Linked DNA regions of Homo sapiens: region 1 is linked to region 2. Evidence: fine-mapped expression QTL. Tissue or cell type: lung. Region 2 holds a variant in brackets; the other region holds the start of a gene. All regions are shown on one strand. Distances are from middle to middle.

Region 1 (10,203 bases), 53 kb before region 2:
CTAGCTGGATGGTGGTAGGAGACAGGAGGGAGACTGCAACAATTTTAAATAGTGATAAATGCTGCAGAGATAACAATACAGTGCAATGTGAGGTGAGAAGGGGCTACTAACTTACTGGTGAGCCAAAGACGTCTTCTCTACAGAGGTGTCATCTGACCAGTGACTTGAATGAGGAGAAGATGCTAGCTGTCTGAAGCTCTGAAGCAAAGGCTTTCTAGGTAGCGATACAGCAGCACGTTCCTGGAAGACAAAAAACAGATGGAGTGGAAACTGCCTAAAAACTTTAAAGTGCATAGAAATCACCTGGGGGTCTGGTTAAATTGAAGATTTTGATTCAGTAGGTCGAGGTGATGCCGAAATTCTGCATTTTAAACAAGCATCCGCGTGATGCATTGTTTCTGTATGCATTACACCTGGAATAATGCTCCCCACAGTGTGGTCTGCAGCCTGGTCCACACACACACAAATTAAAACTTAACCTTTAAAAATCTTTATAGCAATTGAACACTGACACAACATCCAAGCATGTCATTTTTCTAGTAATTTATTTTTAGTGCATTGGTCAGTGACACATTGGAAGTTAAAAAACAAATCACCTGACCCTTTGCAGTTAGTTTGAGAAGCAGTGTCCTAGGTCTATGATACTACAGCAGAGGAGGGAGCTATCCTATCCACCAAAACTGCAGAGAAGCTTGGTAACATTGAAATCCTAGGTACAATGGAGAGTGGAAGTAAAATGTCAGGAGCGAAAGCTGGGTATTGGAACAACCGACATTATCACCACCATCACAGGCATGCACAGATACACAGACATAAACACCCACATGCACACTCTAGACACACACGCATGCACACATAGCTTCCATATGTAAGTCCTAGCAGCCAGGCATCTATTTCTCAGGCAAACATCCAGAAATGTCCTCTCAAAAGACATCAGATGGCTATGGAGTAAAGACTTCTTTATTCTGGAATGGAGGAGCCCCTGAGTGTAATGCTTTCTCAGAAGTGAAGTACAAGTCAACAAAGCCTTGCGGTATGCACAGAGCCCCACACTGCTCACTGCCTCATTATTAAATATAAACAGACCATCCACGATTACCAGACTTTCAAGGACCCAATATAAACAAACATTAGAGGAAGAAGAAAAGCTAGATACATAGGGACAGAGGTATACTGGATTATAATTATGGTAGAATCACACAGACTGTAAGAAAATCTCATCTCTAGAGCTGCATCCTCTGAAATGACCTTTTGTTTCTGTGTGTTTGTGTTGTGACCAGAAAGATGTCACATTTTCTGTGAGACCTGGCTGTTCACCAGTGGAAACTCATGTTTTCCTTATATTCCTAGTTATCCTTTAATAAGCTCCGACTGAGGTAATCTCAGTGTGTTCCTTGAAACTTAAAAGTACCTGTCTAGCTCACTGTGAATGGCTTAATATGTGTATTTCATCAGTTTGAATGCTTTTAGTTACAAACAACAGAAAACTCAATTCAAACTAGTTTAAGAACTAAAAAAAATTTATTGGCTCATACAAGTGGAAAGACAAGAGGTGGAGTGGGCTTCAGGTAAGACATAATCCACTGACTCAGTGGTGTTTTCAATAGCTCAATTTTTTCCCCTCTGTTCTTTCTGCCATCATGAAGGGGGAGTATTACCTAAAAGATACTATGCAACTTGAACAAATTCTTTTCACTATTGTTATTGTTTTTCTTGATTTTCTTTTTGGATAACTCACTTATGCCCTCAGAGTATGCATAACAGGGAAGATATTTTGTAAGATAGTTCAAAATGTCATTCTAGCTGGCATAAACTTGAGGCACAGATTCTGGAACAGTTTGGATGTGTTTCTTCCTAAAATTAACCTGGCCCCAATGCTTTCTCCTGGAATTTCCTTATAGAGTTAGAATTTTGTGGGTACAAATGCAAATGAATTCAAGGTCAGAAGGTCATGACCTCCCAATGCCCTTTCTTTCATGCTTAGAGAGATGAGGCCTAATCAGACACACTGGAGATTTCAGAGCCTTTATCTCTCTATAAACAGTTTGTTATATGAAGAGAGACAGATTACTCTGTATGTTCTCAAAAGAGAAATAATTTTTACATTTTTCTCATTCCTGGGATTCTCTCTTAGTCATTCTCTCCCCCTAATGGCTTTCTCCTAGACACATATATATCCATTATCCTAATGTTCTTCTCTTTCTTCTTTATCTTCTTTTTTCAACCTTGACTTCTTTTCAATGGAGAGAAAAAATTAAGGATTATTTAAAATGCTTTTTAACATTGAACAAACTGAAAAAAAATTTATCTGAACTCTTCTTTTAATTGAGACATCTGAGGCAAATTGAAACCATAAAGTCAGTCAGCCAGTAGACAACATAAAAAATCTACAAACTATAATAAACTAAAACTGCACAGTTGTTATATATTAGATATCCCTTAGGTAGAGGGACTGGCAAGCATGCCATCTAGTTTGCATTTAAATGCTGCATTATTAATAAGAGTCACTGCTGGCTAAAGGTGATAAAAATAGCCCATCACCCCACTATTAGGATTACCCCAAATCAGTCCTTGGGAAAGGATTTGGTTCATAGAGTTCTAACCCTGCAGTTCTGTAGTAACATCTCCCAGCATGGGGGTCTCACCTACGTCTTGGCTATCTGCTGTTAAAAAGCAGAATGAAGACTGTGTGCTCAGCAGGCAACTAAAAGAATCCTCTGTTATTTTGGTGGATCAAAAGTTTAATTTCCAGGATCTGTCTTTTCAGCAGCCGTTAAAGGTTTTGAGTAGATAACCCGGGCCTTTCACTAGTTTTAGAGTTGGAGAGGAGCCACAAATGTAAAATAATATCATATACATAGTTTATATTTGTACTGTTCAATTATGATGAACAATAAATAATAAACCAACAATAATAATTTAAACCAATCTCAGAAGTTTCCAGGACTTTTTCCCTTATAAAAGTCCTCTGAATATGACTCAAATTTGAGAAAAACAAATTATTGTGGAGAATGCCTCACTGAGGATATAGGTGGAATGACCCCAGAGCCTGTATTAACATGAAATAGAAAGCATTATTAATCTATTTACGTATGGGGTTTCAAGCCATCCCATAGAGTAGAGCACCTCTACTCTATCTGCTTTACACTTTGTCTTTCTCTGCAAGATTTTATTTCAACTTTAATGTTTTTAACTTTTATTTTAGGTATTTTTTTTTAAACTAGTGCACTATATCCCCGGTGGATTTCTAGAAAATCTTAGGTTTTCTGGATTAGAACAAGTTAAAGAGAATAGAGCAATAGCTATACGGATTAACTTCAAAAGGAGAAGCTTCAGGGTGGAATTATCCCCAAACTCTGGATAATTTTATGCAAGGACTAATCTAAACCAGATGCCTTTTTATCCTCTGATATACTGCTGTTTAAAGAGGGCATGTGGGCTTTGCTTCGCTAAAGGAGACTAGAACAATAGCACCTTTTAAACCAAGGTAAAATTATTTGTTTTAATCTCATTTATCCACAATAAACCAGGGAATTAAATTTCTAAAACTTTCCTCTAATTCAGTTTTATGGGCTCTTTCCCTATGGTTCAATATAAAAAATGCCATTTAAAATTTTAGGACTCAAAGAATTCCTTCAGTAGCTAGTTATGAAATTCTTTTCCTCCTACACTACCCCAGCAGCTAACATTTCATGCACGTACTTCCTTTGTATTTGAGAATGACCAGATTTGAAAACTGACAAGTAGAAGTGCTATTCAAACAGGAGGATCCCTTTGGAATTTCTAAGCAATAAGAAAATCCTTTCCAAATGGGATGCCTTGAGGTGACTCTATGACAAGAACACAAAAGTTATATGGAGAAATTATTCATTCTTGCAGTCGTATATTCATCCTATTTCATATGAGTGCCAACCAAGTGTGAAGTTTTTACTAGGCTCTGAGGATAAAATGGTGACTTAGCCCCTGTTCTCATGGAGTTTATGGTTGAAGAGGGAAGAGACATTGCATAATTACAAAATCAAATGCATATTTACAAAGTAGGAAAAATATTATGAAGCAAAAGCATAGGGTACCATAAGAATGCATCACAATGGGTTTATCGTAGTTTGTGGGAATCATGTAGCATCTATGGCAGTTCCATTCACTGGGACACTGAACAAGATGACCAGGCTTGAGCAGAAGTATCACGGCTGCATTTTTTTTTGCAATCTAGGTTTGAGACAAGCAAACAGGGAAGCCAAATAAACACTTGAATATATGGATAAATCTGAAGGTATAAATGTAAGATTCTGTAGGTACGAGATCATAAGCTAGAAGTGAAAATGTATTTAGAGGTAAGAGTTAAAAGGAAAAGAGGGCCCGTAACTGATTTTTAAGGAATTCCAGCATCTAAAGATTGGGGGAGAGGAGGCAAAGAAGACTGAAGAGTGGCCTGGGGACAGGGGCAGATCTACCTGGAAATTGATGTAGCTTAACGTTCCGGGTCCTTCTCTTGCCTGGGAGCAACCCTAGCAATGTGTTTACATGGGCATTTATTTTTTGAATTTTTCTAAAGAAAGATTTTTTTTTTTTTTTTGGTTAAAGCAGAGCTCCCAATTGTACAAGCTTCAGAGCCCATACATCCGCCCTTGACTAAGCGGAAGAAGCAAAACCAAGAGTGTGATTGCATGGAATTACAAGAGGGGTGGGGTGGGGAGGACTCTAGGAAGAGAGAGGTCAACAGCTGTGAATGTGTTTGAAAGTCCAAGGAATATGAGAAAAAAGTATTTTTATTCAGAATATTAAAAGAAATTCTTTTAAATGTTCTAAATTGGACTTCTGAGTATCCTTTGGTCCTATAATCTAATATCAGAGGGATATTTTGAAAAAGAGTTTCTTATGCAGAAAAAAATTCGTGGGACTTCCAAATTGAGGATAACAGAAAGAAAATCTTAAGTGGCACAAAATAGAAATGAATATCTGTTCTTCCTGGGGCCATGCAACTCTAATAACTTTTCCATGTTTACTGTTTTTGCTTTTTAATTGGATCATCAGACTAAGAATGCACCCTGATGTGCGAAAAGTTACTTAGAAAGTGAGAGGACTGCCCCCACCCTTCTGATTAAAGCGCTTCTCATAAGCATCCTATGCCATTCAGTAAGCTACCCATGCAGAAAGCATCCACAGGGCAGTGCACATAAGGAAAATCTGAGGAGCTAGAAACAGGCTATCAGTTTCCGCAGGTTGACAAAATCGGCAGATAAAAATACAAGACTGCCATTAAATTTGAATTTCCGATAAACAACGAAGAACTTTTTAGCATAAGTACGTCCCAAATATTGCATGGGATATACTTGTACTAAAATTATTCCTTTTTTTTTTTATTTGAAATTCCCATTTAACAGAGCAGCCTATATTTTATCTGACCACCTCACAAGTCCACTACCCACACCCCAGGTCGAGCGGCCCAGGAGCGAGTTTAAAACCCCGCACAGGCCTGCTCGGCCGCGTCCCCTGATTGGCCAAGGCGCGCCCGCCGCCCCGCCGGTCGCAGGCGTCACGGCAGCCCCAGCAGCCTGGGCCCCGCCACCGCCTCCGCGGCAGCCCCGGTCGGCGCAAGTGCGGCGCGCGCTGGGGGAGGGGGCGCGGCGGAGCGCTAGGCTGGCGTCGGGCCACCGCGGGATTAAGTTTCTCAGTCACGCGTGAGTGTCTGTGCGTTTTGATCCGAAGCTCCTCGCCGGGTCGTTACTTCAGAAGAGAAGACAGTGAGCGTGGGCGAGGCGAGGCATCCAGAGGCCCCGGCGACCCCTGCTCCCCAGTCCTCCGCCCCCTCGCGTCGCGGCCCTGGGCGGGCGCCGCGAGCCGGGTAAGCGGCGCTTGAGCCCCGGCCCAGAGGCCGAGGCGCGCCCCCGCGCCCTGCGCGCGCGCCGGCGGGGAAGGTGCGCGGGCGCCCTGGGCTCGGCGCTTGGGGGTGGGGGTGGGGGCGGGGATGGGGGTGGGGGTGGGGGTGGGGGTAGGGGTGGCGGCGGGCCGTGGGGCGGTGGGGCGGTGCGCTTGCCCCACCCCGCGCGGCCCGGCGCTTCGCGGAAGCCGCTGCTGTGGCTTTTTTAAAAGGATGGGGTCTAGAAGTTTCCTTTGCTACTCGCAAGTCTCCACTCCCCCCAGCCCCGCGGTGGATAATCCTAGACCTTTCAGCACCCCCGCCACCCCTTTCTTTTGCTCTCGCTGACTAAGAGGTTTAAAAGTTTTTCCTTTTCCTTGACCCAGAGGGGCACAGTCTTGGTGTCGGGGGGCTGGGGGTGGGGTGTTAGCCTGGGGGCCCGGAGCGCAGACCAGGCCTCCAGGGCGCGGGAGCCTGTTGCTCTCCCCTGCAGGGGCCGCTCCCGGACGCCCCATCCGCCGTTACGTGGTCCCGGGATGTGCGGGTTGCGGTAGAGAGTGGGCAGCAATGCTCCTGGTCCTGCGTTCTCGCCTTAGCCGCGGGGACCCCGAGGCGAGCCGCTAATTGGTACCGGTGCCCCGTCCCTCACCCCTGGCACCGGCGCCCTTTTAACCGCCGCTCCCGTTGGTGGGAGCACGTTGGTCTTGTCTCTCCCTTAGTCTCCTCACCCCCCGCGCTGATGGGCGTCTTTGTCTGCGATTTGGCAGCCCCAGGATGCCGGATGTTACCAGGGAAGCGATGTTTGGGAGACGCTTTGTGTCTTGCGGAGTTGCGCGTTTGTTGGGTGGTGATGGTGTACATTTTTGTTTGCGTTCTTTGCAGAGGCACAAAGGCTGGGCTATTCTTGCCTGCAGTCACATGGAAATCAAGCGGAGACTGCGGGGGAGGAGAAGTGGCCAGGCGCCGGCGGGAGGTAGAGGCCGCTCCGTAGTCACTGGGGGCGAGTGGGGGCCCCTGGAGACCTCTACTGCGCGGTGCGGCTTTTGAGGTGCTCCGCTTGGGAAGACCCCGGCAATGGGCACTGACTGCCTTTTTGCAGTAGGGGCTGCGGTTGGAGGCTAGTGTTTCCTAGGTATCATCAGATAGATAAGAGGACCATGACTTCACCAGCGTAGAAGGAAAACTTCTCCATGTTCCTTGATGTCATAGAGAAGGAATCTGATAAGTGATCAGACTGCCTCGTCCTGCCTTGTAGACAGTTTGATGTAAACATCCCCTTCGTGTTTCCCTAGAAATTCCTGGTTTAGGTTACCCTTTATAGAATAAATAACACCTTATCTGAAAACTAACGAGGAGGAGGTGATGGTTTCGGGCTTGGGAGTTTTACATGTTGAATTTGGGTATGAGTGATTACAATGAACATCTTGTAATGTTGGAACTATCTAAATTTGTATAATGTATGCCTTAGCACCTGATGGAATTTTGGCAAACAATAGTGTTTTAAAAACCTAGCAAAACTTGGCCAGGCGCAATGGCTCACGCTTGTAATCCCAGCACTTTGGGAGACCGAGGTGGGTGGATCACTTAAGGTCAGGAGTTCAAGACCAGGCTGGCCAACATGGTGAAACCCTGTCTCTACTAAAAATACAAACATTAGCGGAGCGTGATGGCTCGCACCTGTAGTCTCAGATACTAGGGAGGCTGGGGCAGGAGAATCGCTTGAACCCGGGAGGCAGCGGTTGCATTGAGCCGAGATCGCGCCACTGCACTCCGGCCTGGGTGACAGAGCGAGACTCTGACTCAATAAATAAGTAAATAAATAAAAAATAAAAATAAAAGCCTAGCAAAACGTTCCTTGACTTGATCTTCTAATACAATACTAAGCTTTGGATGGAGGCACCTGTACCCTTGTGTGCAATGTAGGCAAAACTAGTTTTGGGTACCCCTTGACTCTCCGTTCTTCTTCCCTATCTCATTTGCCAAAACAAACAAACTAATGAAGATTATTCTCAACATATTACTAATAGATTATGGTGTACCTTATTTCTTACATATGTTCCTTTTTTTTTCCTTTGATCCTTTCTGTGTTTATTCTTTTCACTTACCTTCTCTAGTTCTGGTTTTCTTTGTCCCTTTACCACACTCCTTTTTATTGACTAGGCCTGAAGGTTGTGGCTTGGAAAGGGAGGGATCTTTAGTCAATTTTTAGTGTGCTTCAAAGTCCTATCACCTAGACATTGCTCTGCTTGACCCTTAAAGACATCTTTCCTTTTCAGATGCATTTAAATGTACCTAACTGTGAGGAATAGAGGCTGGTCTCAGAGTTTAGTATATTTCTACAAGTTGAAGCTATTCAGAGAGACTCTTGGAAATCCTTGATATGTAACTTTACATGGATTTAGGTCTAGTTGGCCACTTTTAGTTTTTAACTGCTAGGGTGGAGAGATTTTGCTTGACAAATGATCAAGTGAATCCATTGTCTAGAATTGAGATTAAGGGATTTAAAAGCTGGAGAGGAACAATGAATTGCCTGGAAGGTAACTATCCTCACTTAGAGGTAGATTATTTTCTCCAGATTACATCCCAGATCTGACATAGTCTTGTCTCTCTCAGGTTGAGTTGCAGGTTGGCTACATTTTGTATATTTGGAAACGTACAAAGTACTCTGAATTTCATGAAATATTTTGAGGCAAAGTTGGACTGGAATGTCCCCAAATATGGTAGAGCAAATAGCACATCTGCCAGAGAAAGATCCTACACTTTAAAGAGAAGAAGCAGACAACTTCCTGGTGAATTTAGGACTGCTTGATGGTGCGTATGAGTGATGATATATGTCCAAAACAGTTGTATGTACTTTTGAAAATAGATATTTGGCCTAAAGTAGGATTTCATTTGATATTGTTACGTACATTATCAACCCCATATTTATAACAATAAAGGTTTCATTTTTTCTTGTAAATTAGTGTCATGCATAGGAGAGCATTTATATAAGTACAGTTCGGAAATGATATTTAGCATGGTAAAATTGATATACTGTGATTAAATAATTTTAGTGGGATTCCATGTGGGAGAATAAGACTAAGGAGGTAAATAACTACTTCTCGATAAAGGAAACCAGTGGTGAGGAATCCATTGCCTTCCTGTGATACGTTTCCAGAGAAGATCCGAGGTATTCATGTAGTAGGTAGTAATAGATGGATTAGGAAGAATGTTGTATTGGGTTAGGCATTGGGGAGAGTACAGAATAAACATGATTCTGCTCCAGAAGTGTAGGGTCTTAGTTGGAGGAATCTAATGGGAGAAATAACAGAAAGGTTTTACATGTTAAAAATGTTACAGGGATTCTAGGAAAGTAGTGAAGTATAGGGATTAGTTGCTCTTATCATTGAGGTTAGTAAATAAGACACAGAAAGGCTTTGGTCTTGAGATGAGAGGGTGGAAATGAAAGTTTTTTTGATATGAAGTAGAGCTTAAGTCAGTGGTTTTCCCTTGAAAATGGACATGTATAGAAGAGGCTGGGATGTGAGTGGGCAGTGGGTACTGGAGAGCATATTCAATTTGTATATTTCTGGAGTGGAATAGAGGATTTGTGCCCAGGGGAAAAGGTTGGATAGGGAAGAGCAATTAATGGAGAGCAATGAAGTATAGGCTGACTTTTATCTCTTGAAGTTTCCACTTTCCAATAACCCAAGTCACATTTCCTTCTGAGAGTTAACCTCTTCAGTGCAATCTGGGCTTTTTCTAACATGCACCCTAAAACGTTTGTAGCCATTACCTATTACCCAGTTCCAAAGCCACTTCCACATTTTTGGTGTTTGTTACAGCAGCACCCCATTTCCTGGTACCAAAATCTGTATTAGTTTGATAGGGCTGCCTTGACAAAATAACACAGAGTGGGTGGCTGAAACCACAGGAATTTATTTCCTCACAGTTCTGGAGGCTGGAAGTCTAAAATCAAAGTGTTGGTGGGATTGGTTTCTACCAAGCCTCGCTCTTTGGCTTGTAGATGGCTGAGTTCTCCCTGTTTCTTCACATGCCCTCCCTCTGTGTATGTCTATAGCCTAATTTTTTATAAGGGAACCAGTCATATTGTGTTAGAGCCCACCCCTAGTGACCTCATTTAACCTTTATCTCCAAATACAGTTATATTGTGAGGTACAGGGATTAGGATTTCCTGTGAATTTTTAGGAGACACAGTTTAGCTCATAACAAGGTTCTCAAAGAGACTTAGTGTGTAAACTAGTGAGACTCTGAGGCAGTGAGCTCGTATTGGAGGCTAGTGCATAGTCTGAGCATTACTGGGGTAATTTGATGTTTGGCAAGAAAGGGAAGCTGCTATTTGA
Region 2 (10,203 bases):
ATTTTCCATTTGAATATCCATTTGACCCAGAACCATTTATTGAAGAGATCATCCTTTCTCCCTTGCATTGTCACTATTGTTGTAAATCACGGGGTCATATATGTGTGGGTCTGTTTCTAAACCCTATGTTGTGTTCCAATTAAACAAATTTAATCATATCTTGAACAGATTTTTAGAAAACATTTTAGTTTCTAATTGTTTTGCTGGGAAATACAGTTTATTTTTTGGTATTGATTTTACATCCACCAACTTACTAAGTTCACTTATTACAGCTAATGGTTTATTTGTGGATTCATTTGGATATTCAGTACACACAATTATGTGGTCTGCAAATAATTACAGTTTTTGTTTCTTCAATTCTAGTCTTTATACTTTTAATTTATTTTCCTTGCCTTATTGTATTACCTAAAACCTTGGGTCTAATATTGAATAGAAGTGGTAATAGCATGGATTTTATCCATTATTTTTTTTCTCCCATCTTTTGAACTGATCCTGTTTTTCTCCTGTATTCTGTTCATTTTGTGAATTAGACTAAACGATTTTCAAGTGTTAATTCAACCTTACATTTCTGGAATGCCCAACTTGGTCATAATCATTTTCCTCTTTAAGTATCTTTGAATTGAGTTGTTAACATTCTCATTTAGTATTTTTCTATTTATGTTTATGATCTATAGCTTTTCTGTCTAGTATAATCCTTGTTAGAGTTGGCAATTGAGGTTATGTTGGCCTCAAACAAAAAGTAGAGAACAATTCAGCCTTTTTTTGTCACAAAAAATTGATGTTAATTCAGAAAAAAAAAATGGGAAGAATTTACCAGTGAAACTCTCTAAACCTGTTCTTGTTTTATTTTTGCGGGGAGGGGGGATTTTTAATAGTGCATGCAATTTCATTGATAGATATAAAATTACTATTATTATTATTTTTTTAAATAGAGTTGCTCTTTGTCACCCAGGCTGGAGTACAGTGGCTCACTGCAACCTCCACCTCCCAGGTTCAAGTGATTCTCGTGCTTCAACCTCCCAAGTAGCTGAGATTATGGGTGCGTACAACCATGCTCAGCTAATTTTTTGTATTTTTATTAGAGATGGGTTTTTGCCATGTTGGCCAGGCTGGTCTCGAACTCCTGGCCTCAAGTAGTCCACCCACCTCGGCCTCCCAAAGTGCTGGGATTACAGGTGTGAGCCACTGCACCTGGCCAAACTATTGATATTTTGATAAATGTGTTACCAAGGAATTTGTTCATTTCATGTATTTTTTTCCCCATTTTTTTGCATATGGTTATTGCATGCCTGTAGAGTCTAATTATGTTCCTTTTTTTTATTCCCAATGCTGGAAATTTATGTTTGCTATATTAATCAGTATTGTTAGAGGTTTATCAGTTTTATTACTCTCATCTTTGTCTCAAAGATCAACTTTTTGACTTTTTTGAATTTCTTTATTGTATCATTTTCCTGTTTTGTTGATTTTTGCTGCAATATATGTTATTTTCTTCCTTTTCTGATTTGGTTTTCTGTTTTATTTTAGCTTTTTGATTCGGATGCTTAGCTCATTGACATTTTGTCTTTCCTTTTTTTCCCTCTTACATCTAAGTCTAAGTTTCTAAGCATTTATTTAGCTGCATATCCAACATTTCTGGATGTAGTTTGCAGTATATGCAGTATGTCGTATCTTCATTATCATTCAGTTAAAAATTTGTTTTAAATTCCTCCCTCCCGTTTCCCTCCTCTCCCTCTGTTTTGTTTGTTTGTTTTTACTTATATAGATTAACCTAGCTATCCCCACAATCAAGATCAGATCTATTTTATCACCACAAATATCTCCCTTATTCTATTCTTTTATAGTCATATTTAACCACTTTCTTACATTTGTAACCCCTGGCAACCTTTAATTCATTTTCCATCTCTATAATTTTGTCGTTTCAAGAATGTTATAAAAATAAAATCATAATGTATGTGACCTTTAGAAATTGGCTTGTCTTCATGCAGCATAATGCCCTTGATATCTTGAAGTTGCATATATTAATATTTTTCTTCTTTTATTTTTCAGTAGTATTTCTTATTGGATTTACCTACTGAGGGGTATTTTGTTTCCAATTTTTCACTATTATATATAAGCTGCTGTGAGCGATTGTGTATGGATTTTGTGTGGACCTAGGTTTTTATTTCTGTACAATAAATATCCAGGAGTGCAATTGCTAGATTGTATGGTAAATGCATATCTAGTTGTTTTTAGAAACTGCGAAACTATTTTTCAGTGGGGTGTACCATTTTACATTTCCACCAGCAATGTCTGAGCAATCCAGCTTCTCTACATCCTCACCATTCTGATAGGTACGCAGTGATATTTCTTTTTGATTTTAGTTTGCATTTCTTTAATGGCTAATGATGCTAAATTTCTTTTATGTACTTATTTGCCAGCCATATATCCTCTTTCATGAAATGTCTGTCTGTTTTTTTCTGCCCATTTTCTAGTTGGATTTTTTTTACTATTGAATTTTGAGTTTTCTTTATATATTCTAGATATGAGTCATATGTCAGATATATGTATCCTTGACTTATTTGATTCTACTTTAATTAGTACTTTTACCACTTTCCAAAAAATGCAAGGAACTTAAAACACTTCAACTTTATTTACCCTACTCCTACCTTTTGTGCAACTGTATGTACTTTAATTACATATATATTTAAAGCTCTACAAATTTAAATTATTTACTGGTTTAAGGAATTCCTACTGATTTACATTTTTAAACTCCTTTTTGTACTATAATACTTTCTGCATAGGGATCTTCTGAGATTTAATTTTTTTTCTGCCCAAGATTTTACTCTGGTATTTCTTTTATACAAATCTAAGGTAATTGTGTGTGGGGTGGATGGGGGTGTGTGTGTGTGTGTGTGTGTGTGTGTAAGTGTGGTGTGTGGCATGAAAAATCTAGGTTGTCAGGTATTTTTATCTTTTTTTTTTTTTAAATCATCTTGTTAACATCTGACCTTTATTGTTTTTCTTGAGAAGTCAGCTGTTGGTCTTATTGTGCTTTGAAGATTAGATACCTTTTTGCTCTAGTGGTTTTTAAGATTTTCTTTCTGTCTTGGCTTTTAGCTGTTTTGCTATGATATGCCATTCTAGTCAGCCTCTAAGATGGCCAGTATTTCTTGCCTTCTGATATTCATGCTTCTGTATATTCCCCTGTTTAATGTGGGCTGGATACTGCCTTCTTTGCATCAACAGAGTATGGCAGAAGAGTTGGTTTCTTTTTGATACCTTTAAAGTGGTTTATTTATTTGTTTTTAACAGCTTTTATACACATTTTTAATTGTTCTCAGTGGAAAGGTTACTCTGATACAGTTATTCACACAGAGTGACCTTCATTGTATATAGAACTAAAGATAAATTATGTTTTCTTGGATGCTACTCTAGAAACAGCTCTCCTAGCACACCTGCAAATGAGGAACTTCCTAAGAAGATACTGTCCATTTCTTCTGGAAGGCATATTGAATGATACCCAGGGCACTAAACAGTTGTCTATTCAGAGATGCTCTAGTTTGTGTCCTTCGCTAGCTTGTACCAGCTAAATGTGCATTTCTCAAAAAGTCATTTTTAAAGCTATTTGTACCAGTTGTATTTATTTTATAATTGCACAACTTTATTATATAATATACAAATTTATGACAAGTTTTTCTATGAAAATATTTTGATAAACTATATAGGTGAATTGATAAAACAATTATTGGTGAAATTGTTAGTTATGTTAGGTCAAACTGTAAAATATATTTATGATAAAAGATGTTTATGATTATGAAATTTGTTACAGGCTGAGGATCCCGCACACCAATGGCTAATGGCTATGGTATGTTGGCATAGTAAAAAGTATTTGGGCTTATGCTATGGTAAGCAAGATTGAACAAATTGCATGTATGAAGAAATCCTATATACAAATGAATATACATGTGTTTTAAGTTAAAATAAGGTACATATTTTTTCTTTGTTATTTTTTCTGCTTTACTTGACCTTTTGTAGTATGTGAATCAATACTGGTTCTGACTGCATCTTATAAGAGGACTTTTCCTGTACTTTTAAATACTTAGAAGGTGTTTTAGTTTGCCCTTTCACATAGAATTTGCAAACTTTTAAATTGAATAAGTTGTATAATATTTAGGTTATGTTTTAGGTAATAGCACTAATTAAAATCCATAAATTAATATATGTTTATTTGCTAAATACATAAAAGCCCCCTTTAGACTGAAATGTTCAGCCAGAACTTAAACAGAAAACAGATAATTATTTGGTGACTCTTGCTCATTTACTAACAACTTCCATAAATTATACAGAATGTTTATCTGTATATAAAAATTGCCAGATATTTATGTTTTCTTTTGTTTATTTTATATTCTATAAACCAAGGATGAGAATCAAGATCTTTTCATTAAACATTTGTGGCATGACTGCTATGAACAGACCTATCAAGGCAAATAAGATACACTCGTATTCCTCAAAGAGATTATAGTTCAGAAAGCCATTTTAATAAACAATTACAGCATAATCAAAGGTGCCTTTCTGCTTTTTCTTATGAGTATAAATTTGCCAATTTATAAATAAGACTTTTGTATGGTGGTATAATTAAATAATAGTTTTTAAATATGTGATCTCTATAACCTCTGCTTTTACATTTATGTAGACCTCAAGGTCAGGGATGAAGCAGGAGGAGTCATTGACCTTCCTCAAACCTTTAACAAATTAGGAAATGACAATTGATATTAAATACTTTTATACAGTTCTCATTTTGTAATATTTTACTTGTTCTGCTCTCACTCACTTTACTCTTAGAATGCCTGTATACCTACTCTTTCATAATATCAGAGCTTCTCTTTTACCATGAATCTCTTACAGACAGACTCTCTATTCTCGGGATGCGATTTGTTCATTCTGGCTTACCATAGCATAAGTCCAAATATTTTTTCCTATGCAAACATACCATAGCCATTAGGTCTTGGTGTGTGGGATCCTCAGGCTGTCACAAATTTCATTATGCCATCTGCTTCAACCTGAGCTGCGTGTCTTCTGCTGGCAAACTTTATTGAAGTTGCCATGGCTCAGGATAAAAAAAAAATCAATCTTGGCATAAGAAGCTTACTTTTGAAAAAATAATAATTGATCATGCCTGCTATAGATTTTAAAATAAACATTTAAAAGGATTCCCAAAAGTCTCTTCTCAACACATTGATCTCTTTTTCATCTGTGATTGTAGAAAGCTAATATAATGGTTAAGTTATTGGTAACTTTGGTAACTTAATGAGTTTTCTGTTTTATTTTTAAGGATAGGTAACAAACTCTTATGTATAGATTTTGGTGACATATTGTGAAATATTTTGATAGCTTCTGTCAGTGGATGTTCTTTACCTAATGTTTTATTTTAAATGATATCTCAAATGTTTTGTGGATAATACAAGGACTGTATGTTTTCTGTATAATACAAGGATGATAGGAACACCGTGATGAAAAAAAATCTAGGTCACAAACAACTTAGCTGTGTGACTTTA[C/T]GTAATTTCATCATCCTTAGCATTGAGATGATACTTGAAAGGTTGTTCAGGAGATTGGATCAGAGTTAGATCCTTAAAAAATAGATAAACATTTTTTTTCTGCCAATGTATGTTGAACAACTCTGTATAAGGCATTCTTCTAGAGAACGAGGGCATAGTAAAAATAAAATAGTCAAAAATTTCCACTGGAGAGTTTTTGCATTCTAGTCGGTCTCCACTGACTGGGATGAAAGCTTCATGACAGCAGGGTGTGGATCAGGTGGTAATGAGTGCCATGAATTAAAACAGGGCACAGTAAGTTCGTGGAGTATAATGGTGCTGTCTTAGATAGGAATGCGAAGGAGGACTTTTCTGTGGTGAGATTAGGCACACCTGAATGAAATAAGGAAGCATGTGGATATTTGGGGAAGAATATACCTGTTTGGTAGAGTGAACAGCTTGGCACTTTGAGGCACAGTGAGGAGGGGAGCACAGCTAGGGCTAAGTGGGTGAGGGACAGACTGCTAGGAGATGAGGTCAGAGAGTGACTCAAAAACATCAATGAAGTAAGCTTTCTGATAAGTAGTTACAGATAAAAAGTCACAATCCAGGCACCCAACATAAATATGAAATTAGGATTGACTGCATTGCTTTATTATTATTTAGATTTAACTTCAAACTCTTTTAAAAGGCACACACAAATAATTATAGAATCATTTCCCAAAGTGGGATGATCTTTTCCGTTGTTGTTACGTGTGTCATTGTACTTGGAGTTAGCCAGACAGCACGATTTGAGGGCACAGTCCTCCAGACTGCCAGTGCTGCCCCACACTTCTGATACCAACTGTGGCGAGTTAGGGTCCAGCTACAAAGTTAAAGGTATAAGGATACACAAAACCACCCTCACTTATGATGTCAGCTGCAAATTTGCGAGGTTCCCCTAGCCACCTTGAGGTTTCATAATTCACTAGAAGGTCTTAGAGAGTCTCTGAAATCTGTTAAACTCATGGTTATGATCTATGGTAGGGAAAGGATGCAGTCAAGAGTCAGCCAAAGGAAGAGATGCGTAGTGCAGATTATGGGAGGATTCCAAACTGGAAGCTTCCATTTTGCTGGGAAAGTATAACTCTCCCAGAATCGATGTGTGACAATATGTATAGAGTACAGCCATGTGTCATTAGGTGATTTCATCCTTGTGCAAACATCGTAGGGTATACTTACCCAAACCTTGGTGATATAGCCTACCACACAGCTAGGCTATTTGGTATTGCTCCTAGTCTACCAACCTGTACAGCATGTTACTATATGGAGTACTGTATGCAGTTGTAGCACAATGGTAATTGTCTGTGTTTCTAAATATAGAAAAGGTACAGTAAAAATGTGGTTAAAAGGTAAAAAATGGTACACCTGTATAGGAGACACGTACCATGAATGGAGCCTGCAGGACTGGAAGTTACTATAGGTGAATCAGTGAGTGAGTGGTGAGTGCATGTGAAGGCCTACGACATTACTGTACACTACTAGATAGTCAATATACTGTATGCTACTAGATAGCCAATATAATGGTTGAGTTATTGGTAACTTTGGTAACAATGAGTTTTCTGTTTTATTTTTAAGGACAGGTAAAAAACTCTTATGCATAGAGTTTATACATAAGTTATAAATACTGTACACCTAGGCTATAGTAAATTTACAAAAACTTCCTTCAATAATAAATTAACCTTAGCTTACTGTAACTTTTTTTTCCTTTATAAAGTCTTAATTTTTTTTTAAACTTTTGACTCTCATAATAGCACTTAGCTTAAAGCACAAACACATGTATAGCTGTGTTTGACTGTGTTGCAAACCCAGGAAGATTACCTGATCTTGGTGTTCAGCATTTTTTATTGGCGTGTTATTTCATAGGTGTGATTGATTGCCCTGCCTATATGATTAAAATTCAGCTCCGAGTTTGGGCTTATATCATGTGGCCTTGGGGCCCACCATGAAGAAGAAAGATACCTCATCACTCAGGAAATTCTGAGAGGGGAAATTCTGAGAGTTTAGAGGTTACTTCATAGGATCTGGGGACAGAAAAATATATGTGTGGATGTATATATTTATGGGTGTGTTTTAATGAGTACCCTGAAGTTGAACCCTGGCGGTAGTTTTTGAATTTTCCCATCTAATAAATGGTGCTGCATTGAACATTTAGTGATGCACACACATCTTTGTGTATTATCCTAATGTTCATCCTTGAAATAAATTTCCCAAAATAGAATTGCTGGATTAAAGGATTTGGACATTTTGAAATTTCATTTGTATGTCCTTGTACCCTTGGGATATTTTCTATGAAATAGTTTATGGAATGTCAAAATTCTTAATAATCCCTGCATTACTCTTAGGTAAATATTGCAACTTCAGCAACTTCAAATATTGAATATGCCCACGTTCCTCATCTCAGCCCAGCTGTGATTCCTACTCTGCAAAATGAATCGTTTTTATTATCCCCAAACAATGGGAATCTGGAAGCACTTACAGGACCTGGTATTCCACACATTAATGGGAAACCTGCTTGTGATGAATTTGATCAGCTTATCAAAAATATGGCCCAGGTAAGAACATTTCTTTCTGTTAGTTATTGTAATACCTGTAGTAATTTAAGAATGTGATCAAGTTATGGATAATTTGAAGAATATAGTGACATTTATAACATCTGAAAACATTGGAACAAAAAGTCAGTTTTGTGGGAGTTTAGATGGTTCAGACGTTTTCTATTACAGTTTTATCATCATTTAAATTTGAGTATTATATGTTGTATTATAGAAATATTCTTCAGGATAAAGTGCTAACAATTACCTTGGAAAAATGTTATTCAATTTCTTTTTTTTTTAACAAAGAAATGATTCTGATAAGATGACTGTTACTGCAGTAATTGGCTTTTAAGTTTTTTTTTGAGACATGCCTTGCTCTGTCACCCACACTGGAGTGCAGTGTTGTGATCATAGCTCACTACAGTCCCAAATTCCTGGGCTCAAGGGATTCTCCTGCCTCAGTCTCCTGAGTATCTGGGACTATAGATGTGTGCCACCACACTTACTAAGTTTTATTTTATTTTTTATAGAGATGGGGTCACATTATGTAGCCCAGTCTGGTCCCTAACTCCTGGCTTCAAGTGATCCTCCCACCTTGGCCTCCCAAAGTGCTGGGATTACAGGCGTGAACCACCATGCATGGCCTGGCTTTTAGTTTTATTTCTTGCTTTGTTTCCTAAACAGGGTCGCCATGTAGAAGTTTTTGAGCTCCTCAAACCTCCATCTGGAGGCCTTGGGTTTAGTGTTGTGGGACTAAGAAGTGAAAACAGAGGAGAGCTGGGAATATTTGTTCAAGAGATACAAGAGGGCAGTGTGGCCCATAGGTGAGATGGTCGCGGCGTCTTCTTTGTTTTTGATCCCACATTCTGAAGGTTTTGGTTACTATGCAGGAATTTAGAAAAATAATAATGAATGGCAACAAAAAATTGAACATAATCTGTTATTAACCAGTTTTTAGAAGTCATTAACATTGTTGTGATAAAATAGCAGGTTCTTTGAAATGAGAGTAGCTTTTAGATATAGTCATAACTTAAGTTTTGGTAAGGAAAGAAAAATTTGAGGATAACATTATTTTCATTGTTAATTAAATGGGCTCTTTTTGATTAGATTTTTAAAATTACCATGCTAGAAATGACCCATAATAATTCGAGCTGCATTTTTTTTATGTACCCAGAGCAATAATTTAATATAGTTGCCCCTCAGTATCCATGGGGAATTGGTTCCAGGACTCCTGCAGGTACTAAAATCTGCAGGTGCTCAAGTCCCTTATATAAAGTGGTATAGTATTTGTATATAGCCTGTGCACATTCTCCCATATATTTTAAATCATCTTTAACTTATAATGCCTAACACAGTGCAAATCCTATGTAAACATTAGTAGTCATATTGTATTTTTAAAATTTGTGTGATTTTTTTATTGTTGTGGCATTATTTTTTTTGAGTATATTTGATCCCCAGTTGGGGATCTAATCTATGGATGTGATCCCCAGTTGGGGATCTAATCTATGGATGTGATCCCCAGTTGGGGATCTAATCTATGGATGTGATCCCCAGTTGGGGATCTAATCTATGGATGTGATCCCCAGTTGGGGATCTAATCTATGGATGTGGAACCCATGGATACACAAGGCCAACTGTATAGATATATCCACTTTCATTTTTAGAAGATGAGAATATCCAAGATGTAATGTAGGCTGAGTAGGTAGCTGAAATAAAGAGTACTTTTATATGGGAGGGGTTCAGTAGGAGTAGCAGTGAAATAACCTTACGAGAGTTGATGACCTGCAGCCAAGGCGTGTATTTTTTTTAAAGTAGAACTGCAGGAAAAAGCTTAGAGTGTGGGAATTAAAAATAGGATTAAAAATGACTTGAACATACATGCCAAAGAAGCTGTCATTTCCTTGAGAACTCTCAGATTGTCTTTTATCCCCTTTTGCATCCTTGATAGAGATGGAAGATTGAAAGAAACTGATCAAATTCTTGCTATCAATGGACAGGCTCTTGATCAGACAATTACACATCAGCAGGCTATCAGCATCCTGCAGAAAGCCAAAGATACTGTCCAGCTAGTTATTGCCAGAGGCTCATTGCCTCAGCTTGTCAGCCCCATAGTTTCC

The links.
Region 1: it holds the start of MPDZ, and the variant in region 2 is fine-mapped to the expression of MPDZ in lung (TOPMed, PIP above 0.99). The same link has a PIP of 0.9 or more in aorta, breast, esophagus mucosa, fibroblasts, unexposed skin and visceral fat.

Annotation. Positions count from the first base shown.
Region 1 is chr9:13,275,042-13,285,244 of GRCh38, reverse strand. MPDZ (multiple PDZ domain crumbs cell polarity complex component) reads left to right here and starts at 5,553. Exons shown (of 47, transcript NM_001378778.1): 1 at 5,553-5,845. RefSeq lists enhancers at 5,930-6,645, 6,646-7,361, 7,362-8,077.
Region 2 is chr9:13,222,278-13,232,480 of GRCh38, reverse strand. MPDZ (multiple PDZ domain crumbs cell polarity complex component) reads left to right here. Exons shown (of 47, transcript NM_001378778.1): 4 at 7,898-8,107; 5 at 8,771-8,910; 6 at 10,035-10,203. Among named protein-coding and RNA genes, the nearest start is that of MPDZ, 52 kb to the left of the region's middle. The variant C/T (reference allele first, on the strand shown) is at 5,535.